Linked DNA regions of Homo sapiens. The protein of the gene in region 1 purifies or fractionates together with the protein of each later gene. This does not show direct contact. Each region holds a gene or a part of one and is shown in the gene's direction. Other genes may lie near its edges. The genes, in order: KDM4C, ALDH18A1, RCC1, SMCHD1, CA2, CSTA and FBXO22.

Evidence for each region.
Region 2: the proteins of KDM4C (region 1) and ALDH18A1 purify together in Homo sapiens (affinity purification with mass spectrometry; one large-scale study listed by BioGRID and IntAct). This does not show direct contact.
Region 3: the proteins of KDM4C (region 1) and RCC1 purify together in Homo sapiens (affinity purification with mass spectrometry; one large-scale study listed by BioGRID and IntAct). This does not show direct contact.
Region 4: the proteins of KDM4C (region 1) and SMCHD1 purify together in Homo sapiens (affinity purification with mass spectrometry; one large-scale study listed by BioGRID and IntAct). This does not show direct contact.
Region 5: the proteins of KDM4C (region 1) and CA2 purify together in Homo sapiens (affinity purification with mass spectrometry; one large-scale study listed by BioGRID and IntAct). This does not show direct contact.
Region 6: the proteins of KDM4C (region 1) and CSTA purify together in Homo sapiens (affinity purification with mass spectrometry; one large-scale study listed by BioGRID and IntAct). This does not show direct contact.
Region 7: the proteins of KDM4C (region 1) and FBXO22 purify together in Homo sapiens (affinity purification with mass spectrometry, with the first as the bait; one study listed by BioGRID). This does not show direct contact.

The regions. Positions count from the first base shown.
Region 1 is NC_000009.12:6,756,232-6,761,192, forward strand, and holds the start of KDM4C (lysine-specific demethylase 4C), read left to right. Parts: upstream 1-1,741; 5' UTR 1,742-1,972; intron 1,973-4,961.
Region 2 is NC_000010.11:95,635,682-95,639,881, reverse strand, and holds part of ALDH18A1 (delta-1-pyrroline-5-carboxylate synthase), read left to right. Parts: intron 1-2,445; coding exon 2,446-2,595; intron 2,596-2,684; coding exon 2,685-2,789; intron 2,790-4,200. UniProt on the Homo sapiens protein: Bifunctional enzyme that converts glutamate to glutamate 5-semialdehyde, an intermediate in the biosynthesis of proline, ornithine and arginine.
Region 3 is NC_000001.11:28,529,708-28,533,907, forward strand, and holds part of RCC1 (regulator of chromosome condensation), read left to right. Parts: intron 1-150; 5' UTR 151-159; coding exon 160-232; intron 233-815; coding exon of another isoform or gene 816-908; intron 909-2,095; coding exon 2,096-2,283; intron 2,284-2,463; coding exon 2,464-2,643; intron 2,644-4,200. UniProt on the Homo sapiens protein: Guanine-nucleotide releasing factor that promotes the exchange of Ran-bound GDP by GTP, and thereby plays an important role in RAN-mediated functions in nuclear import and mitosis.
Region 4 is NC_000018.10:2,801,999-2,806,094, forward strand, and holds the end of SMCHD1 (structural maintenance of chromosomes flexible hinge domain-containing protein 1), read left to right. Parts: intron 1-529; coding exon 530-554; coding exon of another isoform or gene 555-637; 3' UTR 638-3,019; downstream 3,020-4,096. UniProt on the Homo sapiens protein: Non-canonical member of the structural maintenance of chromosomes (SMC) protein family that plays a key role in epigenetic silencing by regulating chromatin architecture.
Region 5 is NC_000008.11:85,473,538-85,477,737, forward strand, and holds part of CA2 (carbonic anhydrase 2), read left to right. Parts: intron 1-155; coding exon 156-274; intron 275-786; coding exon 787-879; intron 880-2,260; coding exon 2,261-2,323; intron 2,324-3,582; coding exon 3,583-3,738; intron 3,739-4,200. UniProt on the Homo sapiens protein: Catalyzes the reversible hydration of carbon dioxide. Can also hydrate cyanamide to urea. Stimulates the chloride-bicarbonate exchange activity of SLC26A6. Essential for bone resorption and osteoclast differentiation.
Region 6 is NC_000003.12:122,331,380-122,335,579, forward strand, and holds part of CSTA (cystatin-A), read left to right. Parts: intron 1-4,200. UniProt on the Homo sapiens protein: This is an intracellular thiol proteinase inhibitor. Has an important role in desmosome-mediated cell-cell adhesion in the lower levels of the epidermis.
Region 7 is NC_000015.10:75,927,418-75,931,617, forward strand, and holds part of FBXO22 (F-box only protein 22), read left to right. Parts: intron 1-2,466; coding exon 2,467-2,632; coding exon of another isoform or gene 2,633-2,669; exon of another isoform or gene 2,670-3,450; intron 3,451-4,200. UniProt on the Homo sapiens protein: Substrate-recognition component of the SCF (SKP1-CUL1-F-box protein)-type E3 ubiquitin ligase complex that is implicated in the control of various cellular processes such as cell cycle control, transcriptional regulation, DNA damage repair, and apoptosis.

The DNA.
Region 1 (4,961 bases):
TATTATAAGTATTTATTAATACATGTGAAGCTCTGAAGACAGTGTGTAGCTCACATTACTGTTCTAAGTAAGTGTTAGGTTGCATATTTATTATTTTAGCATATCCAATTTACTTGTAAGGATGGTTGGGATCCTGACGTTACATGCACACATTTGGAAAATTCCCAGTTGAGTATACGTTAGCCAAGTTCAGAATTGTGTGTGGCCGGGTGAAGTGGCTCACGCCTGTAATCCCAGCACTTTGGGAGGCCGAGGCGGGCGGATCACCTGAGGTCAGGAGTTTGTGACCAGCCTGGCCAACATGGCGAAACCCTGTCTCTACTGAAAATACAAAAATTAGCTGGGCGTGGTGGCGGGCGACTGTAATCCCAGCTACTCGGGAGGCTGAGGCAGGAGAATCTCTCGAACCCGTGAGGCGGAGGTTGCAGTAAGCCGAGATAGCGCCATTGCACTCCAAACTGGGCGACACAGCAAGACTCCGTCTCAAAAAAGAGTGTGTCTGTGTGTGTAGCGGAACTTTGTTTTTAACAACTAAAGAAATATGGTGACCCAATAATCCCGTTAGCCTTAGCTCAATTAATCACATTCCATCTGTCCTCACAATGTTCACCCCAGTGAGAAACGAGTTCAAGCGCGTGGTAAGCGGTGTCGATATATTTTTAAAATTCTGTTATCAGTATAATGTAACAGAAAATTCAGCATATTAGCCCAACTTTGCTCACTGGTGTGAAGATATGCCCAATCTTTCTTAGCTAAGACGTTAGAGAAAACGCCACAAGGGACCCAGCTGGGAGCTCTGTAGGAAGTTTAAAAAAAAAATCATTCAGCTTTGCAAAACATCTGATGCTCAACCATCTGTCTTTGGCAGTACAGGGGCTTAAGGTCTGGTTGGTTCCTTCTGACACCTCGGAAGGCGGAGTTACAGAGGAAAAGCAACAAGTTGTAGGAAGTTAACTTATCTAGTCTCAGACGCTGGAGGCACCTGCATTTCTAGTCACTTCAGTTCTGGCCAAACTGTTATCAACTCTAGTTTCTGAGGGACCGCCAGCCCAGGATTCCTATTGGGGTCACCTTTGTGCCTCCCTATCTTAAGAGCACACTTGGGCGGGTCGGGGCGGGACGTGCTGGGTGTAGGTGACTCAACACCGGACAGTTTTGCTTCCAGAGGCTGACACGCTCCTGCGCGGTAGTTGTTAAAGGGTTGGGACACGAAGATACTCTTCGCCTATTCGGGATCTCCCATTGTGGGAAGGAGGCTCAGTGGTCCCGGCCACCGGGTGAAGGGAGAACGGGAACACAGCGCTGTCATCGCCGGAGAGCTGCGAGCCCCGACTTTCTCGCCAGGCTCTCCAGTACATTCCGAGGCTCCACCCCGGTAACGCCACGCTGACGTCCGCGCGTCGGAGGCCGCCATAGGTGCGCGTCGGCGCCCAGGAGGACGTGTGGCGCGTGGACTACATCAGGTCCAGCCCTGCGGGACCCCAGCCAGCGCTTCCGGGCAAGGTTCTGTGCACCTGTTTTCTCCTTCTACGCGAGTATCTTTCCCCTCCGGAAAGAATGGGATATGCCTGTGTCCAAAGGACAAGAAGATGCGCGCCAGCAAGCCTAAGTTAACCACAGCGCGGAAGTTGAGCCCAAAGCAAGAGCGTGCCGGGCACCTTTAAGCTGTTTGTAAGCCCACGTGACTCACCAAGTGCGGGCCCCAGCGGTCACGTGACGGCGCGCGCGCCCTCGCGCAGGGAGAGCCGGCGGTGCGCGCGCCTTCGCCGCTGCCTCCCACCCACCCCCTCGACGGGAGGGTGAGGCGCGGCGCAGTGATCGGGCGGCCGGGGTCCTGTGCGCGTGCGCAGCGAACAGCTGTCACCTAGTGCGGAACAAGTCTCCCAAATTTCCCAAATCTCCCTGGGCCGGAGGCCACTGTCTTCTCTTCCTCCTCCACCGAGTCGTGCTCTCGCCCCAACCCGCGCGCCAGGTAACCGCTTTTCCGGAGTCTGGGGGCCAGGGCGGGGGGAGGGTCCGGAGAGGTCTTCCCGGCACTGCCCCCCTCCGCGTGGGGCACGGGGGTGCGGGCGTCCGGGCGAGCGGCGACGCTGGGGCAGAGACGCTCCGTCCGTGACTGCAGCGACTGTCAAGCTGGGGAGGGAGCGGCCGGCCGCGGCCGCAGGGGAGGGATGCGGGGGCCGGTGACAGCCCGCTCCGGCCCTTACCGAGGTTCGGTACCCGCGCTCGCCGTTTTCCCGGGATCCGGAGTCGGGGTCGCCTCCTTGGGGCAGAGGAGCGCTCGGGCGGTCCTGGGATGCGGACCTCTTAACGCCGCCAGTCGGCTGTGGCGGACTCCAGGAAGGCCGGGCCTGGTGCACCCCTCGGGGCCCTCCCTTCCCTGGGAGTGTCACGACCCGCGGGGTGAGGGTGGGAGCTCCTCTCCTGACCACCCGTTGCAGGCAGTCATCCCGTCATTCGGGGTCGTCTTCAGCCCTCGCGGCTGTCCTTTTGGTGTTTCTTTCCCCCGGCATGGGGCCATTTCTTCCTGCAGTGCCTGGAGGAACCATGATGCGGTGTAGACGGCGGGTGCTTAAATAAATGCGAGTTGGATTAGGGCGCGTGGACTGCCAGGCACAGAACGTGGCGTGGAGTGGGGACGTGGAGGAGGGAGCCAGACAGGCCGGGGCTGTAGGCAGGAGCTTGGGGTTTTCCTCTGTGCTCCGCCAGTAAAGCCAGCAGCCGGGATTCAGATGCTTTCCGCGTGGACTTGATGCTGGGCTCCCCCTTTGCTGCGCGGTGCAAGCCTGCGCTGGCTGGCTCTGATTGTGGGCAATACTACCGGGAGGGGTTTTGTCAGGTTCCTTCTTCCGGAAGAGACAAGGTAAACTTTTTTTTGCGCTTGATAAACTAACCCCGAGAGGTGATTTATAAAGCACTGTTCGGAAATGTAGGTTAGAAAAGCAGAGTCACTTTTATCCTGGTGAAAGTTACTAGTAGGTTCCGGCCACTTAGGTTCACACTAAACTCTGCCCTATTTTCACCCATTTCAGTTTGCGGTATTTAAAAAAATGTCTAAATTCCGGGCAGCTTGGCTTTACTGTTTCTATGGCAACGGTGACTAATATTCTCATTTCGAAGTGTTGTGGTTGAAAACTAGTGGTTTTAATTTTTAAAGGTCCATTTTTTATTAGGAAGCAGTCGGCTCTGCTTTGCGATTATCGCTTGCTTTCTTACCTTGCTGGCCTCCGCGCAACCCGCCCATAGTTTGTTTTGGAACGGATTACACGGTTGTTCGGGTTTTTTAGGTGCTTTTTCTCCCAATTTCAGTGTTATGAAAAGTTTTCACATAAGCTTTACAGTATCCCGCAAACTTGGTAATACAGTACAATTTAAACCGAAGACTTATTTCTTTTTATTAACAGACTTTAGTCAGTTGCTTTTCTAAAGTTGAAAATCAGACCCGGCGCCGTGGCTCCTGCCTGTAATCCCAACACTTTGGGAGGCCGAGGCGGGTGTATCACCTGAGGTCAGGAGTTCAAGACCAGCCTGGCCAAAATGGCGAAACCTCGTCTGTACCAAAAATTCAAAAATTAGCCAGGCATGGTGGCAGGCGCCTGTAATCCCAGCTGAGGCAAGAGAATCACTTGAATCCTGGAAGTGGAGGTTGCCGTGAGCCGAGATGGCACCACTGCACTCCAGCGTGGGTGACAGACTGAGACTCCATCTCAAAAAAAAAAAAAAGTAAAAATATAAATAAATAAATAAATAAATAAATAAATAAAAGCTTTTAGTAAATGAATAGTCTTGTGCAACCATCACCACAATGAATTTTTGAATTTTTTTAATCCCCAAAAGAAGCTCTGTTCCTATTAGCTGTCATTGCCTAGTTCCCTCCAATTCTATCCCCTTCTGTCCCTAGGCAACCACTAATCTGCTGTCTGTCTCAATAGATTTGGCTATTCTGGACATTTTATATACATGGAATAATACACTATCTGGTCTTCTGTGAGTGACTTCTTTCACTTGGCATAATGTTTTTTAAGGTTCATCCATGTTGCAGCCTGTATCAGTACTTCATTCCTTTTAATGGCTAATATTCTATTATGGATACATCACATTTTGTTTATTCATCAGTTGGTAGACATTTGTGTTATCTCTGCTTTTGGCTGAGTAATGCTATGAATATTTGTGAACTAGTTTTTGTGTGGACGCGTGTTTTCTCTACTCTTGGGTATATATATATATATATATAATGTAATTGCTAGGTTAAACATCTGTTGAATGACTGCATGCGTAAGGAGGGATAGTTAGTCTTGGGTGATACTCTTTTTTATTTATTTATTTATTTATTTATTTATTTATTTATTTATTTTTTGAGACGAAGTCTCACTCTGTTGCCCAGGCTGGAGTGCAGTGGCACGATCTCTGCTCACTGCAAGCTCCGCCTCCTGGGTTCACACCATTCTCCTGCCTCAGCCTCCTGAATAGCTGGGACTACAGGCACCCACCACCATGCCTGGCTAATTTTTTTTTTATTTTTAGTAGAGATGGGGTTTCACTGTGTTAGCCAGGATGGTCTCGATCTCCTGACCTCGTGATCTGCCCACCTCAGCCTCCCAAAGTGCTGGGATTACAGGCGTGAGCCACCGTGCCTGGCTTGGTGATACTCTTTCAAGCCTTGAAGGGGCCTGTTGATCTTTCCCTATTCCACTGCCAACTTCAGTTCTCCAGTTCTCTAAAGTGGGGCTTTATTCTATGGTTAATGCTGTGTTTTCCTTTCCTGGATGTCTTTTTTTTTTTTTTTTTGAGACGGAATCTCGCTCTGTTGTCCATGGAGTCTCACTCTGTGCCAATGGCGCGATCTCGGCTCACTGCAACCTCTATCTCCCAGGTTCAGGCGATTCTCCTGCCTCAGCCAACCCAGTAGCTGGGATTACAGGCACCCACCATCATGCTTGGCTAATTTTTGTATTTTTGTA
Region 2 (4,200 bases), on another chromosome or scaffold:
CAGTATTAATACCATAAGGACACAATTGGGAAAATGTAGGCTGGGAAATCCTAAAGAATAAACAACTCAGTTTAACAAAAAATTACAAGGGGGAAAACTGATGGAGAAGGGAACCCATGAATGAAAGAGACTTGAGAGACACTTCAATTAATTTGTAATGCAGGGTTTAATTTGCATCTCAATTTGAGCAAGGTAAAAAAAAATTGGAAAAATATGAACACTGGCTATTTGATATGAAGGAAATCATTGAAATATTCCAGATAATGGATTTGTGGAGAGAGAAAGACATATAATTATATATTATATATAATATATATGATTATCTTTTAGCAGTTATTACTGAGCTATTTACAGATGAAATAACATGTCTGTTGCCTGGAATTTGTATTAAAACAATGGTGAGGGTATAGAGGGGTTATTGGAGAGTGGGAAGTTGGCCATGAGAGATAGTTGGTGAAACTGGGTGGTATGTACATGGGGATTTATAATACTATTCTCAGCACTTTGGTTAAGTATTAAATTTTCTTTTTCTTTTTCTTTTTATTTATTTTAGAGAGAGGGTCTTGCTCTGTCACCTAGACTGGAATGCAGTGGTGTAATCATAGTTCACTGCAGCCCTGAACTCCAGGGCTCAGTTGGGATCCTTCTTCAGCCTCCTGAGTAGCTGGGACTACAGGCACATGCTACTTGGCTATTATTTTTTTTAATTTTTCATAGATATGGGGTCTTACTATTTTGCTCAGGCTGGTTTCGAATTCCTGGCCTCAAGCAGTCGTCCCACCTCAGCCAGCTGAAACTTTCTGTGATAAAATATTATTGTCGGGGCCAGGCACAGTGGCTCACACCTGTAATCCCAGCACTTTGGGAAGCCAAGGTGGCTACTCAAGGGGCTGAGGTCAGGGGGTTGCTTGAGTCCTGGAGGTCAGGGCTACAGTGAGCCATGATTGTGCCACTGTCCTCCAGCATGGGTGACAAAGCAAGACTGTGTTTCAAAAAAAAAAAAGTTATTATTGTTTTAAATCATGGTTTATCATAGCTGTTTGTTAAACAGCTGGACCAGTTAAAAGGTTTCAGACATCAGAAGGAAAGGACAGTTTAGGAATATTGACTTTATTACATCTTGAGTCTTTAATTTTTTCATGTAGGTCTGCTTAAGGTAGGAAACAAAGTGACCGCATTTGGTCTTGGGCAGACAGAGCAGAACAAGGTCAGCATGTGCCCCTGGTGTAGGCAGAGGCAACCCATAGGATTAGACATGCCACCAGAACAGCCTCCTTTACCCGGGTTAAGCCTTAGAACCTGAGAAGCCATCTACTGAGTCTGCGTTGCATTTCCTACCTGCGGACTTTTATTCTGGGCTTCATTTCTTGGAGGAACTAGGCCTTCTGCATTACACACTCCCTGCAAATATTAGGTTGGCACAAAAGTAATTGTGGTTTTTGCCATTACTGTCAATGGTAAAACTGCAATTACTTTTGCACCAACCTAATACAGTCAAGTCCTATAGATGTCAAACTTGGCTACACACCAGAATTTCCTCATTAAAAATGTCTTACTTAGGCCAGGCATGGTGGCTCATGTCTGTAATCCCAATGCTTTGGGAGGCCGTGGCAGGAGGATGGATTAAGACCAGAAGTTTGAGGCCAGCCTGGGCAACATAGTGAGACTCTGTTTCTACAAAAATGTGTTAAAAAAGAAAAATTAGCTGGGCATGGTGGCATGAGCCTGTAGTTCCAGCTACTTGTGAGGCTGAGGCAGGAGGATCACTTGAGCCTAGGCAGCCAAGGCTGCAGTGAGCCACATTCATGCCACGGCACTCCAGCCTGGGCGACAGAGCAAGACTCTGCCTTAAAAAAATTTTTTTCTTAGGGTGTTGTTGTTGTTGTTGTTGTTGTTGTTGTTGTTGTTGTTGTTTTTGAGACAGCATCTCTCTCATTCTATTGCCCAGGTTGGAGTGTGGTGGTGCGATCATGGGTTACTGCAGTCTTAACCTCCCTGAGCTCAGGTGATCCTCCTACCTCAGCCTCCCAAGTAGCTGGCATGCACTACCATGCCTGGCTAAATTTTGTACTTTTTGTAGAGATTGGGTCTTGCCATGTTGCCTGGGTGGTCTTGAACCTCCTGGGCTCAGGCATTGTGCCTGCCTTGGCCTCCCAAAGTGCTGGGATTACAGGCATGAGCCACCATGCCCAGCCAATTGTTTTAATTAAAAAATAAATTAAAATGTCTGATTTTTGTCTGCCACCTGCTAAATAGAAATTTGAGACAGGATGTAGGAATCTGTGTTTTTACCAATCTGGCTGATTCTTCCAGAGCCAGCCACATGCTGGTTCATAAACCAGCATTTGGGATCTACTCGATAGCCCACCCTACCTCCATCCCTTGTGAAGAGATGAAAGAGACAGTACGGTAACTTACAGTCCCCTTTCCTTTCTCAATGCCCAGGTATCAGTGCTGCAGAATCAGGGCAGAGAGATGATGCTGGTGACCAGTGGAGCCGTAGCCTTTGGCAAACAACGCTTGCGCCATGAGATCCTTCTGTCTCAGAGCGTGCGGCAGGCCCTCCACTCGGGGCAGAACCAGCTGAAAGAAATGGTGAGTGCTGCTTCCCCACACATTGAAATGGATCTTCAGGTCTTCTTCCCTCATTCCCTACCACACCTTGTCTCATTGGTATATTACAGGCAATTCCAGTCTTAGAGGCACGAGCCTGTGCAGCTGCCGGACAGAGTGGGCTGATGGCCTTGTATGAGGCTATGTTTACCCAGTACAGCATCTGTGCTGCCCAGGTGAGAGGCTGGGCTTTGAAATGGGTGTGGGACCTGTGAGGGTGGTTGTTGTGGAACAAAGGGGTCTGGAGCCAGACTATTGGAATATGGTGTCAGCTTCATCACTTGCTACTTGAGATCTGAAGAAAGTTTCTTTTCCTTTTTGTGCCTCAGTTTCCTCATCTGAAAATGGGGATAATATCAGTGCCTATTTCAGATAATTTTTGGAAGGGCTCAGTGAGAAAATATATGAAAAGCATTTAGTATAGTGTTTGGTACATAATACATTGTCAGTAAATATCAGTTCTTGTTACACTAATAACTTAGGATTCCAAGTGCTAACACTTCTGAAGACAGAGAAGTTAAATGTCTTTATTTCACTGGCTTCTTTGATTTCAGGTGGCTTGCTTCTCTTTGCACCTGGTTGGTTGCCTTTTATAGCAGATATTTATTAAGCTTTGAAGGGAAAGAGGAATGCTGGTGATTGGTTGGTTTTTCACTCATTCAGCAAATATTTATTGAGCACCTATGGTGTACCTAGCAGTCTTGGGCATTGGGGATACTGTGGTGAACAAATCAGACATGATTCCAGTCCTCATGGGACTTACGAATTTTTGGTGGCTACCCCTAAATGTTCTAGAACCTTCTTTCTACATTGTTTCATTTTTACCTAAATCTCCTGAATTTTTTTGAATTATATTCTTAATCAACTGTACAACTACACACTAGAGACATCTCAATAACAGTCACTTCAGGAAACAACTGAAAAAAAAATCTAACTCCCAAATTATTTTATTTTGAAATTCCTTTACCTGTAAAGATGTAAAATAGCTGTTATTTTATATTATGGATATTATTTTACATGTACACTACATGCACAGATGTTATTTTACACAGGTGATATTGTTATATATACATATATTGTTTCAGGTTTTGCTTCTTCATTTCCTGTTACTTTTTTTTGTTTCTCCATCATTTGCCTGTTTGTACCCACAGTGATGTTCTGGTATTACACCAGAGTGTCCTCAAGTCAGTGAGGTAAAACAGAAAGGCACGGACTTGTCCCATTGCCTATGGCTGGGGACCCCACTTTCTGTAGTCTTAGCTTTTTTTCTGTTAGTATAAATACAGTATAAATCTCTATTTATATCACTCTTCTTTATTATTTGGTTTCTCTTCACAGTCCAATGACAACTTTGGTCTTTAATTTTTTTAAAGTGCCTGGAGCCAGGTGAGGAAGCTCAAGTCAGGGAGCTATGGTTTTGCTTTGGTTTGGTTTTTCCCAGGGATGAAACCTTTTGAGAGTTTGTTTTTGTTTTATTTTGTTTTGAATGATGGTAGCATTAAGAGTCCATGCAGCATCAGCCATTGTTTCCATTTACATTGAGTGAAAGAAGAGCCCTGCCCCCTCCAGTTCCCAACAAGCTTCAAC
Region 3 (4,200 bases), on another chromosome or scaffold:
TCCATTATTCTGTTCTTGGGATACATTTTGAGAAGTGGAATTGTTGGGCAATTCCTCTTAACGTATTTCTAGAGTGTTTGATAAATATTGTCTGATTGGCCCAGGAAAATGTTTGCCATTTCTCATATGTAGTATTTGACTGACTTTCAGGACAGGAAGATGTCACCCAAGCGCATAGCTAAAAGAAGGTCCCCCCCAGCAGATGCCATCCCCAAAAGCAAGAAGGTGAAGGGTAAGTTGGCCTTGGCCTCTTTGTGGGTACAGGTGGCCCCTTGAAACCCTAAGAACCCGGGACTGGGCTCCTTTCTTCCTGAGGCTTGAAGCTGAAGGGTGTGGATGTGCAGAGACCCCACCCAGCTGGAAGGTTTCCTGTAGCTCATTGAATCCTACCCTCTGGGAATCACAAAGTGGGCAGAAACTCCTCTCAAAGCACTCAGGCAGCACTGGCACAAAAAAAAAAAAAAAAAAACTAGACCCTAGGGCTTCACCCCAGGCAGTGATGCATTATGGTTAGGACCACTGACTTTCCGACATGGGTTCAAGTCCTTGCTCTGCCACTTTCTAGCTGCTGGGCAAGTCACTTAATCCCGCAGTTTGGATTATCAACTTCTTAAAATGGCGGCAGCCAGAGCAGCGTCACCCTCTCTGGGCTGTGTGAGGATGAGATGAGATAATGGCCTGGCAGCATTTGAGGGAGGTGGCTGTGGTTTCCTCTGTCCTGGGACCCCGGAGGGGGACAGGGAGGAGAGAAAAGCCAGCACCAAACTGGGAGGGGAAGTGTGGACCCACGCTCAGACAGTGTCTGTCTTTTGCAGACACGAGGGCCGCTGCCTCCCGCCGCGTTCCTGGCGCCCGCTCCTGCCAAGGTGCCTGCGGGCCGAGCCCTCCTGACCAGAAAACCCGACCAGGTGGCTCCGCGCCCGGGGCGCCCTCTGTGCTGCCAGCGCGGGCTCCTCAGCGGTGGCCACATCCTCGGGGGAGGGGCTGGGCGCCATTGGCTGCCCGGGGCTGCGGGTTGGGGGGCCGCCTTTGGCCCACAGAGAGCCCCGGGCGCGCACCTCCCGCAAATGCCGCTGTCCGCTCTTCCTCCCGCCCCTCCTGCCTCTCCACTGGATGGTGGAGGGAAGAGTCCGTTTCTGCAGTGGATTTGCCCGGGAGCTGAACTTATTCACTGGCGGACGGCTTGGGCATGGAGGAGGGCTTGGATGGAGACTGGGGATTGTTCTCTGACCCACGTAGTCTCCCTTGCTTTCGGTGCAGATTCTGCTATTATAATTAGCTTTCTGCGGGGCAAGGTGGCTCACGCCTGTCAGAAGATCGAGACCATCCTGGCTAACACGGTGAAACCCCGTCTCTACTAAAATACAAAAAATTAGCCTTGCGCGGTGGCGCGCGCCTGTAGTCCCAGCTACTCAGGAGGCTGAGGCAGAGGAATCGCTTGAACCCGGGAGGCAGAGGTTGCAATTAGCCAAGATCCACCACTGCACTCCAGACTGGCGACAAAGGGAGACTCCGTCTCAAAATAACAATAACAATAATTAGCTTTCTTTTCTTTTTCTTTTTTTTTTTTTTTTTGAGATCAAGTATCACTCTGTCGCCCAGACTGGAGGCGGCAGTGGCACGATCTTGGCTCACTGCCACCTCCGCCTCCCAGGTTCAAGTGATTCTCCTGCCTCAGCCTCCTGAGTAGCTGAGATTACAGGCTACTGTTGGCAAGGCTGGTCTCTTAACTCCTGACCTCAAGTGATCCGCCCGCCTTGGCCTCCCACAGTGCTAGGATTACAGGTGTGAGCCACCGCACCCAGCCCTTCTTGCCCTCTCCACCAAGATTCATTTCACAGTATCCAGTGTCTCCTTGTTTCCCTTTCTCCCCTTTCACGTGAATAATGTGCTCAGTTCTTAATCTCCACAAAAATCCTGTGAGAGAGGTACTTTTGTTGTCCCCATTTCACAGATGACAAAACTTAGAAAGTTCATACTAACAGTCTGTGGCAGAGCAGGGGCTTCTGCACAGGTTTGTCTGATCCCAGAGCCTGTGACCTCTCCTCGCTGTCGTCATCCTCTACACTCAGGGTCTATCTTCTTCACCCTTCAGTCTCACACAGGTCCCACAGCACAGAACCCGGCTTGGTGCTGACACTAGGCCAGGGCGACGTGGGCCAGCTGGGGCTGGGTGAGAATGTGATGGAGAGGAAGAAGCCGGCCCTGGTATCCATTCCGGAGGATGTTGTGCAGGCTGAGGCTGGGGGCATGCACACCGTGTGTCTAAGCAAAAGTGGCCAGGTAGGTGTTGGGGACTGGCACAGGGTTGGACAAGGCCTGGGGTTGGGTGGCTTGGGGCAGGGCTTTTGAACCACGCATGTTCACTGTGGAAATGGAGCTGGCTAGTCAAGTGGGGAGTGGCCTACATGAGAATGGACTGCGAGGCCAGACGTTGCATTAATGAGGGCATCCTGGGCACAGGTCTATTCCTTCGGCTGCAATGATGAGGGTGCCCTGGGAAGGGACACATCAGTGGAGGGCTCGGAGATGGTCCCTGGGAAAGTGGAGCTGCAAGAGAAGGTGGTACAGGTGTCAGCAGGAGACAGTCACACAGCAGCCCTCACCGATGATGGCCGTGTCTTCCTCTGGGGCTCCTTCCGGGTAAGGCTGGGTCTGAAAGTCTGCATGGTCCCTGAAAGACAGAATTAATTGGCGGGGCCCCAAAGATAATCCACTTCCATGCCCCCATGGTACTTACTGGTGGGGAGATGAAAGCCCACAGGTAGAGCTGAGGCCCAGACCCAGGACTCTAGCTTCCTCATGTGGGCCTGTCCACGCCACTGGCTGCTTCCTTGAATCCGATGTCATCAAGTGTCTGTCCTGGGAAGTGAGTGGGTCAAGGATGTCCCTGGGTTGAGGCTGATCCAGGAGGCCTGCTGTCTTCACCCATCTCCCTGACTTCTGTCTCCCCCTCACCTTGCCAGCACTGCCTCTTCCACACTTCCCAGAGGCTTGGATGGGGCAAGGAGGTGTGGAGGCAGGGATTGTCGCATCTCAGAGTTTCCAAGGTACAGAGGAGTGTAGTTGAAAAAACAGATTGTGGGTTTTTGTTGTTGTTGTTGTTGTTGTTTTTGTATTGTTTTGAGATGGAGTTTCACTCTTGTTGCCCAGGCTGGAGTGCAATAGCGCAATCTTGGCTCACTGCAACCTCTGCCTCCCAAGTTTAAGTGATTCTCCTGCCTCAGCCTCCCAAGTAGCTGGGATTACAGGCATGCGCCACCACGCCTGGCTAATTTTGTATTTTTAGTAGAGACGGGGTTTCCCCTGTTGGTCAGGCTGGTCTCGAACTCCCGACCCCAGGTGATCCACCCGCCTCAGCCTCCCAAAGTGCTAGGATTACAGGCGTGGGCCACCACACCCGGCCTGATGGGTGTTTCCTTATCACATCTATTTTGAAATTTTCATGGAGAATTTCAAACACATGAAAGTAATCAGAATTGGGCTGGGCGCGGTGGCTCATGCCTGTAATCCCAGCACTTTGGGATGCCAAGATGGGCAGATCACGACGTCAGGAGATCGAGACCATACTGGCTAACATGGTGAAACCCCGTCTCTACTAAAAATACAAAAAATTAGCCAAGCGTGGTGGCGGGTGCCTGTAGTCCCAGCTACTCGGGAGGCTGAGGCAGGAGAATGGCTTGAACCCGGGAGGCGGAGCTTGCAGTGAGCCAAGATCGCGCCACTGCACTCCAGCCTAGGGGACAGAGCGAGACTCCATCTCAAAAAAAAAAAAAGAAGTCCGGGCGCAGTAGCTCATGCTTGTAATCCCAGCACTTTGGGAGGCCGAAGCAGGCTGATCACCTGAGGGGTCGGGAGTTCGAGACCGGCCTGACCAACATGGAGAAACCCTGTCTCTATTAAAATTACAAAATTAGCTGGACATGGTGGTGCATGCCTGTAATCCCAGCTACTCGGGAGGCTGAGGCAGGAGAATTGTTTGAACCTGGGAGGCGGAGGTTGCAGTGAGCCGAGATCGCGCCATTGCACTCCAGCCTGGGCAACAAGAGCGAAACTCTGTCTCAAAAAAAAAAAAAAAAAAAAAAAAAGGAAGTAATCAGAATATCAGAATTATATTTTTTTCTTTTCTTTTCTTTTCTTTTTTTTTTTTTTTTTTTTTTTTTTTTTTTTTTTTTTTTTTTTTTTTTTGAGACAGAGTCT
Region 4 (4,096 bases), on another chromosome or scaffold:
TATCATCTTCTATTTGGAGATAGTTCAGGGAACTATTAGAAAATATTTACATATACCTGAATTTTTAAAATCTGTAGCTATATATGTCAAGGTGCTCACTGTGTTCATCTCTACATGAATGAGATTATGAATATTAAATGTTTTATTTTGCTTGTCTTTGTTACTTTTCTGTAATAAGCATTATAATTCCTGTTCTTAAAATAATAAGTTCATTTAAGGAAAAGGGGGTGAAAGGAAAAATCTGCAGAATTTAGGTCTGAGATAATACCATTTCAAAGCACTGTGATACAAATTACTTATATATGTTATATACTGTGTGTGTGTTAACTACTTTTATTTGGGGGCTTGTTTTGCATACATGTGAAGGAAATGATTATATATAAGGATTTAATTAAATCTGTTTATACCAAGAATTATATTTAAAAGAATATGGTTTCATTGGATATTTAAGCATTCAGGTGTGATGAGGGAATTCAGGGAAAGGAAACCTTTGGTACATAAAACTTTTTTTTCTTTCCCCTTTGACCAGGATTATAACCAAAACAGATGTATGAGAGGTGACAGAGAGAAGAGGCCATTGGTCTCAGTAAGAATGCCCTGCTTTCTGCATCTCTGTTTCAGAAGACCAAGAGGGTGACTTACCAGACTGAGTATTTCTGGGGACAATACAAGTACCTGGGCATGAATTTCCATTTCGATTCAGATGGGACTGGAAACAACCATTCAATTTTATGAATCTTACTGGACATTATGGATTTACTGGAATTATTCCAGACATTATGCCCTTTGGTTGTCACTACCTTGCAAATGTGTAAGAGGAAAATGTGCTAATGTGGCAGTGACTGTAAAACTGGCACATGGCATTTATTAATCCTGAAGAAAAGTACATGTACTATTTTTCAGTATAAATATAATGAACATGTCAGAACTATTTCTTGAAAACCTTTTTATTACTTTTGCGTGAATTTATTTAACAAAGATGTTTTGTCTTTTGTGTAAGGGAGGTTCTAGAGGCTAGATGTTTAATTGTAAATATGTGAGGAAACTCAATGCAGAATTCAGGATAAAAATTTTAAAAGCACAGGTATTTGGGAATTGAAATGTTAAGATACCCAGAACAACATTAAATCAATGAGTGAACTTGTGACAGTGGTAGCATTTCAAATTTCAAAAGACTTATCCTGTGTGTGTGTGTGTGTGTATATATATATATATATATAAATATATATATATAAAATATTCAGCAGCACCAAGTTTTATAACTATTGTTTGTTTGACTTTATTAATACTAGAATATGTAGTCTCAGCCTTAATTTTACATTTACATTATTTTGTAATTTTTTATTACTATTTTTAAGGGGTTAAAGAGAACATACATTCTCACATTAGTGTACTTTCTGGTAGAAAGTTGCTGCAAAAACATTTGAAATGTATATTAACCTAATGTATGTCATATATATGTCTTTGTGTAAGTTCAAGACTATTGATCTGTGAAGTTATTTTGTAAGGACATACATTTGGTAAGTAAGTTTGTGTCCCAGGAAATGTATGTGTTTTTAAACCCTTTCTAAATATGCAGGCCATTAATAAATAAGATTGTTTCTTCCCTACTGAATAGATAAGTGTTTTTCTTTTTTAAAATTGGAAGCTTCATAAAAGTTATCTTGTTAAAAAACGATGATGATGTTAACCTATCTATCTTTATAATTGGAAATTATTTAAACTGTTTGTTGTTACAGAAGAAACAAAATGGTAATTACAGAATTAGCTGTGGGGAAGATTGGCTCCCATGGTACTACAGGTTGAGTATCCCTTATTCAAAATGGTTGGGACCTGAAGTGTTTTGGATTTTGGTTTTTTGTGGGGTTTTTAAATTATTATTTTGGAATATTTGCATTATATTTACCAATTTAGCATCCCTAATCCAAAAATCTTTCATTAGAAATTGGAAATGCTTCAATGAGCATTTCCCTTATGTGTCATATCTGCGCTCAAATGTTTTGAATTTTGGAACATTTCTTGTTTCTGACTTTTAGATTAGGGATACTCACCCCGTACCAATATTTGGAGTCCTTAGACATTAGATTATATGAAAATGATTGATTGATAGGTAAGAAAGGTTAAAGAGAAATGACTTTTTAGGAACTAGACTTGAACGTATAATTAATATGTGGAACTAGTTTGCTTTTATAATTCATTGTATCAAGAAGGAGTCATGTTTTAAATCCAAGGCATTGAGACTATCTAGAAGCAAAAAAGTTGGTTTTAAAAATTCTTTTTATTAGAAGTGTGTTTAAAAACATGTCTTTTTTTCCCTTGAGCGACAGTGGCCTCACTACATTGCCCAGGCTAGTCTTGAACTCCTGGGTTCAAGCAGTCTTCCTGCCTTGGCCTCCTAAGTAGCAGGGATTACAGGCATGCACCCACATGCCAATTTTTATTGCTTAAAATGGCGAGTTCTATGGATATTATCTAGCCCCAAGCCCATATCTGTACACTTTTGTTCATTTTATAATACCAGAAAGAATGTTCTATCAGTAAAAGAAGGTTTTTAAGTATGAATCTCCATTTTTGTGGAGTTTTTCTACCCTGTAAAAATTAACTTTGTGGTTCCCAGTAATTACAGTAAGGAGTTTTTCTATATTTTCACAGTTGGATTTATCTAAGGATATTTCTCAGCATATTAAGGAATCCTTTTCTACATTTGAGCAAATACTGAGGTTCATGTTGTACCAAATAATAATAAATTGCTTTTGTGTTTAATATGTAACACGTAAGAACAATTGAAATTTTCTTCTAAGATTTAATACTAGTCTTTTAGTATAAAGGAATGTAACTGGAGAAAAAAATTAATGCTACAGCCATTTATCCTGTGTTATGTGTTATATAATCTGAAATTTGTCACAATGTTACAATCAGGAAGTTTTTTTTCTGGTTTCTTCTTCCAAAGGAAAATAATAGCCTACTTGTATTTTGAAGTAACTGAAATAAAACTCTCTCCAAGCCTTTTTGCACATTACGTTCATCAGTTTTCATGTGTACATTTGGCCAGGCCTATGGTAAAAATAGGCTCAATTTACTTAACATTTTTATAGGGTTTTTGGTATAAGATTCTTTACAGAGACTAAAATTTGTTGCATATATAACATTCAGATTATTTTAAGTGAAATTGGCTCCTATTGTTAAATATTAGTGCTAAGGAAAGTTCAGTCTTCTAAACTGTCTATACTTTGGCTCTGTGACTTGATTACTTTATAGTCATTATGAAATTGATGGGGTTAATTCCATTGTATTTTTAGTATAGAATTTTCAAATAATACATTTTAGTAAAAAAATTGAATGTTTAATTTTCATACTGTGAAACTGGTGAAAAATATTAAAAACAACCATTTAAAACTTCTGGAAATGGTCCTGAGGACAAATGGCAATGAAGAAACATCTATTCAAGAACATTTACAAAAATTCAGTAAGGAAGATGAGAATCTGTGGTAGTTTGAACCAAGACTGACTACTCACTTCCACCTCCAAGCTCAGCAAGCAGACTAACGCAGCCAAAAACGCTGGGTTCCTTATCCCACCATCTCCCAGCCAGAAATTTTTTTCCCGAAAGGAGCGAGACTGTAGTGATTCTTGTCCTGCCTTCAACTGCCTTTTGCTAGCACTAAGTCCTGGGTCAGTGTGGCCAGGTGAGAGCCGTCTTCTCCCCACCAGGCCACAAAACCTTGAACACATGTGCTGAGATTGCTGGGGCCTTGATAACTCTCTGGCTCGTGAAGTAGGATTCTACCCCAGGAAAAGCAAGCCAAGAGGATCTCAGGCTACTGCCCCCTTCCATTGCACTCAGCTTCTAGAGCTAGAATGCCAACTCAAGCTTGCCATTGTCCCCACCTCTAGCTCCAGATCCCTGGCTCAGAGATTTTTGCCTGCAAATGAGGTAGGATGAAAACAAAACAGGTAGCTCTTAATCTCTTTCCAAAGGAACTGACTTTTAAAAAAAGAGCATGAGAAGTTTAAACTAGAGAGCTCGAGACACACAGCAAAAGAAGTGCAACATAGAGTAATTTATTGTAAAGGAGAAAGAATATTTTGAAAGTTA
Region 5 (4,200 bases), on another chromosome or scaffold:
TTAAAGGCAAACATTTAGTACTGTAAAACAGAATTAAGATTGTAATATTTAGGCATGTGTTTCATGTGTGTGTATGTATGTGTGTATACCTATGTATATATGTGTATGCAGATACATACATATATGTTACATATATATATATGTTTTAATTTTAGTGCTCAAGGGAGGACCCCTGGATGGCACTTACAGATTGATTCAGTTTCACTTTCACTGGGGTTCACTTGATGGACAAGGTTCAGAGCATACTGTGGATAAAAAGAAATATGCTGCAGAAGTAAGATATACTTTTTTTTTTCTTTCCAGGGAAAAATGTTTATAAGTTGATATTTAGCATTAATTTCAAAAGCTTAATTTGTAAATTCAACTCACGCCCAGTGAACCACTTCTTTTACAAAGGACCTTCACATTTGCTTTTTATAACCTTTAATTGTGACATCATACTTAACGCTGCAAAACTTTCTCTACTGTCTCCAACTCCACCATTTGCAAAAAGTAAACGGACTCAAACTGGAGGATCCTGTTTTAACAGAAATTTAGAAATAAAATGTGTGCCTTCTGTCAAAACTGTACATTTATTTGTCTTAGAGTTATTGATGAAAACACTTGCTGTTATACCAAGTACTGTGTGGATGATTAGAATTAAAATGAAAGGAAAATTTTGATTTAAAATTATCCATATTTTCAATTTCCTGAGTAACCTTTATTGTGAGAAAAAGACCATTGAATAAAATCTGTCAGCTTTGATTATGTAAATCACTCACTGTGGCTTTGTCTCTTCGGCCTTAGCTTCACTTGGTTCACTGGAACACCAAATATGGGGATTTTGGGAAAGCTGTGCAGCAACCTGATGGACTGGCCGTTCTAGGTATTTTTTTGAAGGTTAGTTGATGACCCAATTCTTTTTTTTCCCTATTTTTAATAAAGAATGACCAGACAGAGTATTTGTAACATACAGGACATTCTACAAAAGAGCTTAGGAAATGCCTTTGTCCCTGAAATGTTTTCAAGTTTATCTCCTCCTTTCATATCTGCTAGTTGCAGTGGAGATGGAGGGCAGAAAGACAATAGGAGAGGTACTTATTTGGTACCTTTTGGATGTAAATGTGAAGAACATAAAGAGATCAACTTGGGTGACTGCTAGGTGTTTGTTTGTTTTCTTTTCATTTAACCTGAGGCTAGACAGTACTATATTATGATAAAGTAAGATCAGGTTCTGAAGAGGGGAAGGACAGTGAATTTCAGGCAACAGTGGGACAGAACCGGTTGAGCTGCCCTCTAAACAGTGGTAAAGGGGAATGGAGAAAGGTCTGGGCTGGAGATTTATGAGCTCTGATTCATATGTTGAGGTGGAAGCTACAGGTGTGTATGAAATCATCCAAGTACAGCACGAAGAGGGAGATGAGAAATCTGCCCAGGGAGCAATCCTGAGAAACTGCAAAATGTAAGGCCTTTACAAGGGGAGAGATGCAAATTAAACAACTTAAAAGGGGCCAGGTGTGGTGGCTTAAGCCTGTAATCCCAGCACCTTGGGACACCAAGGCAGGAGGATAGTTTGAGGCCAGGAGCTCAAGACCAGCCTGGGCAACATAGCACAATTCCATCTCTACAAAATTTTTTTAAAAATTAGCTGGGCATAAAAAACAAACTAACAAACAAAAAAACAAAACAAAAACAAAAACACAAAATTAGCTGGGCATGGTGGTATACACCTGTAGTTTCAGCTACTTGGGAAGCCAGGGCAGGAAAATCACTGCAGCCTAGGGGTTGAGGTTGCAGTGAGCTATGATCATGCCACTGCACTACAAGCTGGATGACAGAGCAAGACTCTGACTCTAAAAAAAAAAAAAAAAAAAAAAAAAGCGAGAGTCAAGAGAGATTTGGGTTGCTGGAAGGCGTAGGGAAAGCCAAAGAAGAAAATAATTTTTAAAAAGAAGGGAAGACCATAGTGTAAAGTCCTACAAGGAAATCAAGGCAAGCCCTTGAGGAGTATCCTTTGGCAGTTAGAGGTCACTGGGGACAATTGAGCTGGTGGTTTCAGGACTACTCTCTGAGTGGAATTAGAGGCGAGTTGAAGATTCAGTGAAAGTAGGCAAGTCTATGGTGTCAGTGTCATCAAGCCAGTACTGATGGGGGTCATGTATGAAGTGGAGAATTTGGGCTCACTATTTGGATGTTTTCTAATAGAGCTACCCAAATAAAAATAAAAACTGGTACAGTACCAACTGGGTGATAGTATCTTGCCCTTTATGTTTTTCTTTAGGTTGGCAGCGCTAAACCGGGCCTTCAGAAAGTTGTTGATGTGCTGGATTCCATTAAAACAAAGGTAAATTTGAATTTTCTGCCACCTCCTTAGGGTACCAATTTTCAATACTCCATTGGTTTTAGAAATTTCTTTTGATCAAATTGCACAGTCTCAATGACATGTGGTGTTTGGATGAGCAGTTAGTAAAGGTAGAATATTACTTAAATATTTAATTAACGTTTCTTTCAACAAAGTTGATCCTAATGCTAGCATAATTCTAAGACTTGTATTTATTTAATCTTGCTCCCCCATCATTTGGACATCCATATGTAAGAGTCAGAGAATCTTATGCCTGCAAGGAGGTTCAAAGGTCCTCTAGTCAAATTATTCACTCATTCATACAGCAGATATTTGTTAAGTATGTACTATGTGCCAGTCGCTTTGCAAACTAGTAGACACAATGGTGAACAAGATAAACAAGGCCCTGTTTCATGGAGATTTCTATTCTATGACCTCTTTGCATTCATCCATCCTGCATTTAAATCCTCTCTGCAGCATAGTTGTGTTGAGGTCGTTGAGCATCTGTTTAAACACTACAGTCACTTCCGGTGATGGGGAACTTATCACCAGGGGCAGCCCTGGCTTTATAAAGCTGATCTTCACATTGAAGCAGCATCTATCCTCTGAAATGCTCACTCACTGGCTTGAGCCCCTTGAATTCATAGAATAAACCTGATCTCTCTTCCAAATAACTCTACTCTGTCTCTACTTTGTTTTTTCACCTACCCCAAACTAATTATCTTTAGTTTCCTTTAACTATTCTCATATGATATAGTTTTCTCTCTTTGCCACCACCTTGTCATTCTTCCAGTAAATCATTCCTGTTTGCTTGAAAAGTGTAGTGTCCAAAACAGAATGTAGTTATTTGATTCTGACCTAGAGCAAGAAAATCACCTCCTCATCAGGATACCATATTTCTGTTATTGCAACTTGAAGTCACCTCATTTTAGTGGCAGCAGTCTCACTTTAAATACTGGGTGTGATCAGCTAATGACTTAATGGGGAATGTAAGGGATCATTTTAGATAAAAGGCCAAGATGAAAAATGGACATGTGAAAATAGTTTTTTTTTTTTTTTACTACGACTTGCCACATATTTTCAAGTTGAATGTCTTCTGTTAATTTCTCTTTATTTTGTTTGCCAGTGAATATAGAACCTCTTTTTTAAAAAGTGTTTTTGACCATCAGAGGGGAGTATACCTATTTGTGTCTGCTGCTCTCCTACCTTCCTCCTACTCTGTCAATGTGATAGTTTGAAGCTGCGTATTTGCCTTGTTCTAGGGCAAGAGTGCTGACTTCACTAACTTCGATCCTCGTGGCCTCCTTCCTGAATCCTTGGATTACTGGACCTACCCAGGCTCACTGACCACCCCTCCTCTTCTGGAATGTGTGACCTGGATTGTGCTCAAGGAACCCATCAGCGTCAGCAGCGAGCAGGTTTGTTTTGTAATGACAGGTCTGTTTACGGGTGGAGCATTTAGTCAAGGCAGAAGACCTTGGCCTCCAGAGTGAGAGAGAACTGAGATTTAATCCTTCTCCTGCTACTTCTTGCTATGGAAATAGTGCCTTTGATGGTGCCTAGCAAATAAACAGCGTTCAGTAAATCTTTGTTGTTATTAACTATAAACTTAGTTCGTTTAGTCTCTAAAATTGAATAGTCATTGTAAGGATTCAATGAGAAAGATGTCTGTCACCTAATAAATGCCTTTTTTTTTTTTTGCCAGTTATGAGGAAACTAAGGCTTAGAAAAGTGAGAGTTCATATTCAAGGTTACGCAGGTATCAGTGAGTTACCAGCCTACTACTCACTCACATAAGGGCTTTCTGCTATTTTATTTATATCAGAATGCATTTCTGAATCCTGACAGATGAGAGTCATCCCTTGGAGAACATGTATCTA
Region 6 (4,200 bases), on another chromosome or scaffold:
AGCCACACCAGAATCCTTCAGGCACCTACCTTCCCAACTTCATGAGAACATGCCCAGGCCCACTGAGTCTCTCATCCAGCCTGGACCCCATGACAGGAGGGTAGCTTCAAATACTCCTCCACTCATGATGATTTCCTTGACCCTGGGAGCTCCTGACATTCTAATTCTCAATTAAAGGTCACACCCACTGCCACCACTTTCTATGCAGCTACTACTGTTCCAGAATCAAAGAACTTTGCCAAAGCGAGGTGCAGAACCACAGAAAACTCACCATTACAAACCTGTGGATTAATGCTTAACAACCCGGACAGGACCCAGGGCTGCCAGAACATTCTTGCAGTCATATTTGTTGGTCTTTTTCTAGAAACCCCACAAATGTAAATCTCTCTTCAGTTGTTCATTGCCTCCCACCCCCATGGTCCCTCCAGCAGGATGTCTCAGTTCCTACTCTTCTTAGGCCAGCTGTCCCCAACCTTTTTGGTACCTTTGTGGAAGGCAATTTTTCCACAGATGGGGTGGAGGGGATAGTTTTGGGATGAAGCTGTTCCACCTCAGATCATCAGGCATTATTTTCTCATAAGGAGCACGCAACCTTGATCCTTTGCATGCAGTTCACAATAGGGTTCCCACTCCTATGAGAATCTAATGCTGCCGCTAATCTGACAGGAGGCGGAGCTCAGGCCATAATGCTCACTGGCCCACTGCTCCCCTCCTGCTGTGCAGCCCGATTCCTAACAGGCCATGGATGGGTACTGGTCTGCAGCCCAGGGGTTGGGAACACCTGTCTTAGGAGATTGCAGATCTCTGGTAAGAAAATGCCCCAGCTGACCCTATCTCTTGCTGGATCTCATTCCTCCCTAGACTCTATTCTCCTCTCTTCAGCCAGTCCTTCCTCTCTTAGCCAGGTGACTTCATTTCTTGCATCCTCAATGCCTTGTCCCATACTTCCTTCTTCCTTCAAAACATACTTAGACAATAAATGTCCACAAGTCACATCTTACTGGCCCTACTGTCCTTTCATGTTACTATTCAAACTCTCCTTCCTTACTCTCTAAATCTCCCCCAAATGTAATTCATCCACTTTGCCATCAATATCTTTCTATCTATTTTCTATTAAATTAGGCACAGTCCTATTGTTTCTGTAGAATGACTACAGATTAGGGGAAAAGCCTGAGTGTTGGGTGCCTCATGGCTCAAATCCTCAGATCTCAGAGAATAAACACCTCACCAAGATTCATGCTCAGTAGCAATGAGAAATGCTTGAAGAACTCTGGGTTAAATGCATTATACCAGGTGCTTCTCCCTGGTAGCCTCCTCCCCGGCTGGAGACCAAGCGACAAACCTCCACTGTATTCCTTGAGCTCCCGTCACCATCACGCGTGGCAGACTGAGAAAGGTGAAGGCCAACTGCATTCAGCAGGAGATGTGTCCGTTCACCGCCAGTCTCCCACCACCGTTCCCAGCTGGCCTGCATCCTCCTAGTGCCCATCCTGGGGAGTCTTTCAGCACCAAGCTACCTTCTGAGACTTAAGTTTCACTGACAAGCTCCCCTACTCTGCCCCTTTCCCTGCTCCTCAGCTCAAATCTCATCACTCAGGTCCATGTCATCTAACATTAAACCATGCAAATCTATTTTACTGGGAAGAGGGAGGGAGGCTGCAAGTTACAAGTAGAGTGAACCAGAAATCAAGGTCCACAGTCTGACAGGTGCCAGAACACTTCAAGAAACAAACCAGATCTTTTAAATCCCCTCTCTCATGGAAAATTCTGCATTTGTGGATTACACAGATACGATGGAAAAGTTAAAGATTTGGATATATTTCTAGGACAGATAGAAATAAAAACTTAGGGCCAGGCATGGGGGCTCACCCCTGTAATCCCAGCACTTTGGGAGACCAAGGTGGGTGGATCACCTGAGGCCAGGAGTTTGAGACCAGCCTGGCAAACATGGTGAAACTCCATCTCTCCAAAAATATAAAAAATTAGCTGGGAGTGGTGGCAGATGCCTGTAGTCCCAGCTACTCATGAGGCTGAGGCAGGAGAATTGCTTAAACCCAGGAGGGAGAGGTTGTAGTGAGCTGAGATTGTGCCACTACACTCCAGCCTAGGTGACAGAGCAAGACTCCATGAAAGAGAGAGAGAAGAAAGAAAGAAAAGAAAGAAGAAAGAAAGAAAGAAAGAAAGAAAGAAAGAAAGAAAGAAAGAAAGAAAGAAGAAAGAGAGAGAGAGGAAGGAAGGAAAAGGAAAGGAAAGGAAGGAAGGAAAAGGAAAGGAAAGGAAGAAAAAAGGAAGAAAGAAAGAAGAAAGAAAGAGAGAGAGAAAGAAAGAAAAAGAAAGAAAGAGAAAGAAAGAAAGAGAAAGAAAGAAAAGAAAAGAAAGGCTGGTTGGCTTAGGATACGTGCTTAAAAAGAAACATGACTGAAAAGCAGAAGGAACACAGATCAGATATATAAGTTATCATGCAAGGACTTTAAAATAACTATGTTGAATAATTTTTCAACTTTAAGCAGTCATGCTCAACTCATAGCCTTACATTCTCCATTCATAAAATGAGGTTTAAATGGATACTTTGGGGGTTAGTGTAGAGATTAACTCTTTCAAACTCAGCTCCTAACTTGACTGGTGCCAAGTACTGGCCATCCCTCCTTTGGAATTTTGAAAGGCTTTGGAAAGGGACCCTAAGACAATAACCTGTTTCCTTACTCTACTTCTCTGTGCATCCTTTCTCCGCTCTCCTGCCCCTAGCTCTTCCCACTTCTGGTTTGTCCTCACTATTTGTCTTCTCCCTTTCTCCACTTTGAAATTTCATTTCCATCTCAACAGAACAATCACACTTTTCCCGTCTATTCTCAAGGTTACAGGAGAACTGAGTGGTGGTCCGTGGAGTGTTTGGCCTTTCAGAAATGGTCTGAGAACTCACAGTTTGCATATGTCTACATCTTTGAAAACAGTTCTGGTACTCAAACTGAGGCATCAGTAGTAAAGGTTCAAAACATCTGCCCAGGGAGGATTGTTTGAGTCCGGGAATTCGAGGCTGCAGTGAACTATGATCACGCCACTGCACTCCAGCCTGGGTGAGGGGGAGATTCTGTCTCTTAAATTTAAAAAAACAAAAAACAAAAAAAACCTGCCCACTGATAGGAAGGACTGCCTTGGGAGAATCCTAGATGGACTGGAGGCCTGATTGAAGTTGTATGGACATGCAATGCTTTCATGAAGGGCATAAAAGCAAGTTCTCAATAAACAAGGTACATTCAACACAGAGAGTTATATCCTTTTTCCTCCAAAAGACAGAAAAGAATTGGGGTTGAAGGACAAATCCACAGACATAAAGACAACAGGAGATAGGCAAGTACCACCTCAGAAATACCAATAAAATTTTGGAAGTTGGAAAACAGATGAACAATGGAAAATGCTGAGCAGTCTAAACAGAAGCTAAGCCCATAGAGGGGAAAGTCTAAGCCAGAAGCAAGCAGATTCACACTGCAGAACGTCACAATGGCGCAGGCATGAGCAACACCAAAAAGTCGTAGCCAGGAGTAAGGTCTCAGACCAAAAGCAAGAGGACTGATCTGTATGAAGGACAGTGAGACCTCCCATAGTTCCTTCTCCCTCACTGTCCTCCACCCCGGCAGAAGACGAGCTTTACACTTAGCAGGAACTGAGTCAAGAGCTCATAGTAGACTCTTGCATATCAGGCCCAGCTGAGAGTGGGAATGAAGCACTGTACAGAAAGTTGATGGGCTCAGTAAAAGTTTACATATTGAATTTGGGACTGTCTCCCTTCTCATGCTGGGTTCGGGAATGCTGACATTTAAACCCAACCCATATCCCTCCATGGTAGACAGAATGATGGCCCTCCAAAGATGTCCATGTCCTAATCCCTGGAACCTGTGACTAGGTTCCTTTACACAGCAAAAGAGACTTTGCAGGTGTGATTAAGTTAAGGCTCTGGAGATGGAGAGGTTATCCTGGATTATCCAGGTAAGCCCATGCAATCACAGGGTCTTTATAAGAATTATACCCAAATACTGCACTCTAGTTAGTATATTGTTTTCCACAGGGGTATAGGTCAACAATTCTGAAATTATTTTATGTATATGCTAGAACTGAGAAAATAGGCGAATACATTGCAAATAATAAGAACCAGGATTCTTCCTCAGTGTTTGAGAAAGGAGTTATAATAAGGAAAAGGGAAAA
Region 7 (4,200 bases), on another chromosome or scaffold:
CATGAGGTTTCTAAAAGCTAAAGCCCTGAGTGTCAGGAGATGTGGGTTTTAATGTAGAGTCTGTCATTATATTGTCCTGGGGTAGTAGTCACTTCTCTGGCATTGGCAGTCCTTGTTTGTAAAATAAAACTCTAGACTTGATCTCACAGGCCTCTCCCAACTCTGAAACTTTGTTCTAAAGAAGAAAATATATTCTCTTAAAATTTCGTGGGCTAGTCTATAAGGGAAAAAAGATGCTTTAGCAATGGTTTGGGGTATATGATGTCATGAAAGTAATATTCTTTTTACTGTCCAAGTCAGTAATTTACTGTGTAGAGAATTGGAAATGGACCAGAGGCAGTTTCCCAGAATAGGTCATTATTTGGTGTTAGTAATTGGTCATTCACGCATCTGCATACCCTTTGTTTCCTTAAGTAACTCTCCTTTCTGGTAACCACCTTAGGTTTGTCAAGGTGGAAGTCATGTGGTCAAATCAAATGGAAACACAAGTGTGTTAGGTATTAGATTCATTTTCCTGTCCCCAAAGCACCCGTTTGGTAATGCTGGCAGAAGACATACATGCGGCCAACAATCATAGGAAAAAAAGCTCCACATCACTGATCATTAGAGAAATGCAAATCAAAACCACAATGAGATCGTATCCCATACTAGGCAGAATGGCTATTAAAAAGTCAAAAAATAACAGATGCTGGCAAGTTTGTGGAGAAAAAGGAACACTTATACACTGTCGGTGGGAGTGTAAATTAGTTCAGCCATTGTGGAAGATAGTGTGGTGATTCCTCAAAGACCTAAAGACAGAAATACCATTTGACCCAGCAGTCCTATTACTGGGTATATATTCAAAGGAATATAAATTATTCTGTTATAAAGACACATGCACATGTATGTTCATTGCAGCACTATTCACAGTAGCAAAGACATGGAATCAACCTGAATGCCCATCAGTGATAAACTGGATAAAGAAAATGTAGTACATATGCAGCCATAAAAAAGAATGAGATCACGTCCTTTGCAGGGACATGGATGGAGCTGGAGGCCATTATCATTAGCAAACTAACACAGAAACAGAAAACCAAATACTGCATGTTCTCATTTATAAGTGGGAGCTAAATGATGAGAATACATCGACGCAAAGAGGGGCACAACAGACACTGGGGCCTACCAGAGGGTGGAGGGTGTGAGGAAGGAGAGGATCAGGAAAAATAACTAATGGAGAATGGGCTTATTACCTGGGTGATGAAATAATCTGCACAACAAACCCCCATGACACACGTTTGCCTGTGGAACAAACCTGAACATGTATCCCTGAACTTAAAAAAAAAATCAAATTGATAGTCTATAAACAAGCTGCCAGAGGCTCCAGTGAAACCTGGGAGCTGTGGGCAGAGCAAGTAGGCTGTCTCTGTTACACTCTGCCACCTCCTAGCGGTAGCAGCTTTTAGTTCCTGTGTCACAGAATTGAACATTTTCCTGCTTTGCAAGGAACTTTCAAAGGCTAATTCGCCTTTACTCTCACCTGCTTCCGTGGAGGAGGTGAATAAAGCCTGTATTTCAGTGATGTAGTAGTTTCTTAGGCTGCTGTAACAAAGTACCCCAAATTTGGTGACATAAAACGAGAAATTTATTCTGCACAGTTCAGGAGGCCAGAAGTCTGAAATTGAGATGGCAGTAGGGGTAGTGCTACCTTGGGAGGCTGTAGGGGAGAGTCTGTTCTTTTTCTCTTCCTACCGCTCCAGTTTCTGCTTCTGTGGTCACACTGCCTTTTCTTCTCTGTCTCTCCTTTGTACATCTTTCATTATGAGGACACTGTCATTGGATTTAGAGCCCACGTGGATAGACCAGATGATTTAATCTTAAGATCCTTACTAACATAGCGAGACCCCATCTCTACCAAAAAAAAAAAAATTTTTTTTAAAGATCCTTTTTCCAAATAAGCTTACATGCATAGGTTCCAGAGGTTTGATGTGGATATACCTTTGGCATGGGCAGGGGGCACTGTTCACCACACTATAAGTGGTTAGCGCCTTTTCTCTCCTTTAAAAAATAAAAAATCTGTAAATTCTCACTGCTGCTAGCACAGCTCTGTGTAAACCAGTGTTTTTTTTTTTTTGTTCCCTACTGAGAGCCAGCTTGCACCTTGGTCTACCAAGAGTTGCTGCTCAGTACATAGCTGCTTCATTATTTGTGTTGATTGCATTATTTATTAACACAAATAGCCATTTAGTTTTTTTAATAGAAAAAATAATTAAGATTTTGCATAATGTTTGTAAAAAATGGAAAACTTGATACAGAGATCGAAGAGGATATAAAATAAGATAAAAAATAAAAAATGGAAAATTTGATAGCTTAAGCCACTAAATTGCCCTTAAGGTGGAGTGCAAGTCAGTAACATTTCATTTTGCAGCATGTATAAAATAATTTCTGTTTTAAGGCTGTCTTTAACTGTTGCTCTTCATTTCTCTGCAGGTCTTTTAGATAACCCTGAACTTCGTGTGGTCCTTGTCTTTGGTTATAATTGCTGTAAGGTGGGAGCCAGTAATTATCTGCAGCAAGTAGTCAGCACTTTCAGTGATATGAATATCATCTTGGCTGGAGGCCAGGTGGACAACCTGTCATCACTGACTTCTGAAAAGTATGTCTTGTGTGCTTCTGATTTCGTCTGTGAATGAAGGGAAATGGTCTCAGGTTTTGTCACTTTGGGGTTAACAATTTAAAAAACGTGTTTAAAGAATTATTAAGATAATAGTTCATTCCATTTTGTAGTAGACATTGGCTAAGGGGCTTACTGAACATAATTCTGCTTACGGTTGAATAATTACATTTTTATATATATTGTCCTTCAAGAACTTCCTTGAGTCACATTCTCCTTAAAATTTGACATTGCCTGTTGATCTTTCCTTTGACAGATGTGGTACTCTGTGTGACCTCAATGTGTCACCTCCTTTCTAGTTTCCTCCTTTAAAGGAAACACATGGTTAGAGTGTATCTTTATGGCAAAACTTCTCAGAGCTTCTAATATGCCCAGTGCTGTGGAAATCTGGAAGGAGAATAGCATTACCTGTGACAGTTCCCAAATGTGTTTGGTCACAAAACTTTTTTCCACAGAATGTCTTGCAAGTCGTACTGGTTTTTGGAAATTCTGTATTAGATCTTTTGAAAGGCTTTTTCAAGCTTAAAAATTGTGGATCTTTTTTGTTACTAAGGCTTTTGCTTTCAAAGATAAAAATATTTGCTCTTCTGTCTTGGGAGCCATTACTTCCTTTCCATCTTGAATGAAAATACATATCATTTTGAGTTTGAAACAATTAGGTGGACATAAATATCATTTGTTTCCAGCAGGAAAATCAGACCCTACCCCACCCTCAATGCTTGTAAACACTACTATTTGTTTCCCACTCTGTTTAATATTTGCATCCTAGAGTGGTGACATGGGGACAGACTGTTGCAGATCAGTATCTATAAGAATAATGTAAGTCATCCTAGTTATAGTCTCTCTTCTGGTTATCTCTATGAGCTAGATCTGGGAAAATAGCTAAAGTTGAGGTCCCTGGACTGCCAGGGAGGAGGAAGAGAGGAAGGCCAAGTACGTTGAATCCCAGGCAGGATATCAAACACTGGATTTTGTGCATACATACACTGAATTCTTGGTGGCTATCTAAGTTATTTCCCCTCTTGCCTAATTTTTCCTGTGTCTTTGCTATTAACTTAAATTGTGTACGGATAGGGCAATGGTGATTCAACATACAGTTTACCTTTGAAATGCAGATACCTCACTCAGACTTATAACATCTGAGGTGCTAGCTTGTAAGTGTAGCTATTTGTATATCATCTACTTTTTATACCTAATAAGAGAAACACCCCCCACCCCAATCATTACTCTTCACATGACCCATTAATTTTAATGTGGTCTTCATACTCTGTCAGTGGTTAAGAGAAACCATTGAGTAAATGAGGGCTCCATTTTAATAAAGTCCAGATAACCCAACTGACCCAGTGCCCCAAAAGGAAGATGTATAATTCTTTGAGGCAAGATTGACAATGTATATTAACAATTCTGTACCAAAGAGGAAATGTGATAAAGTTTTAAGAGCAGCAGAGGACTTCAGAAGACGGATTTTGCCCCTCACAAACTTGTTTTACTACTAGCTAGCCTTATTACTTTAGTCACTTAACCTTTTTGCGTCTTAGTTTCTCACTAAT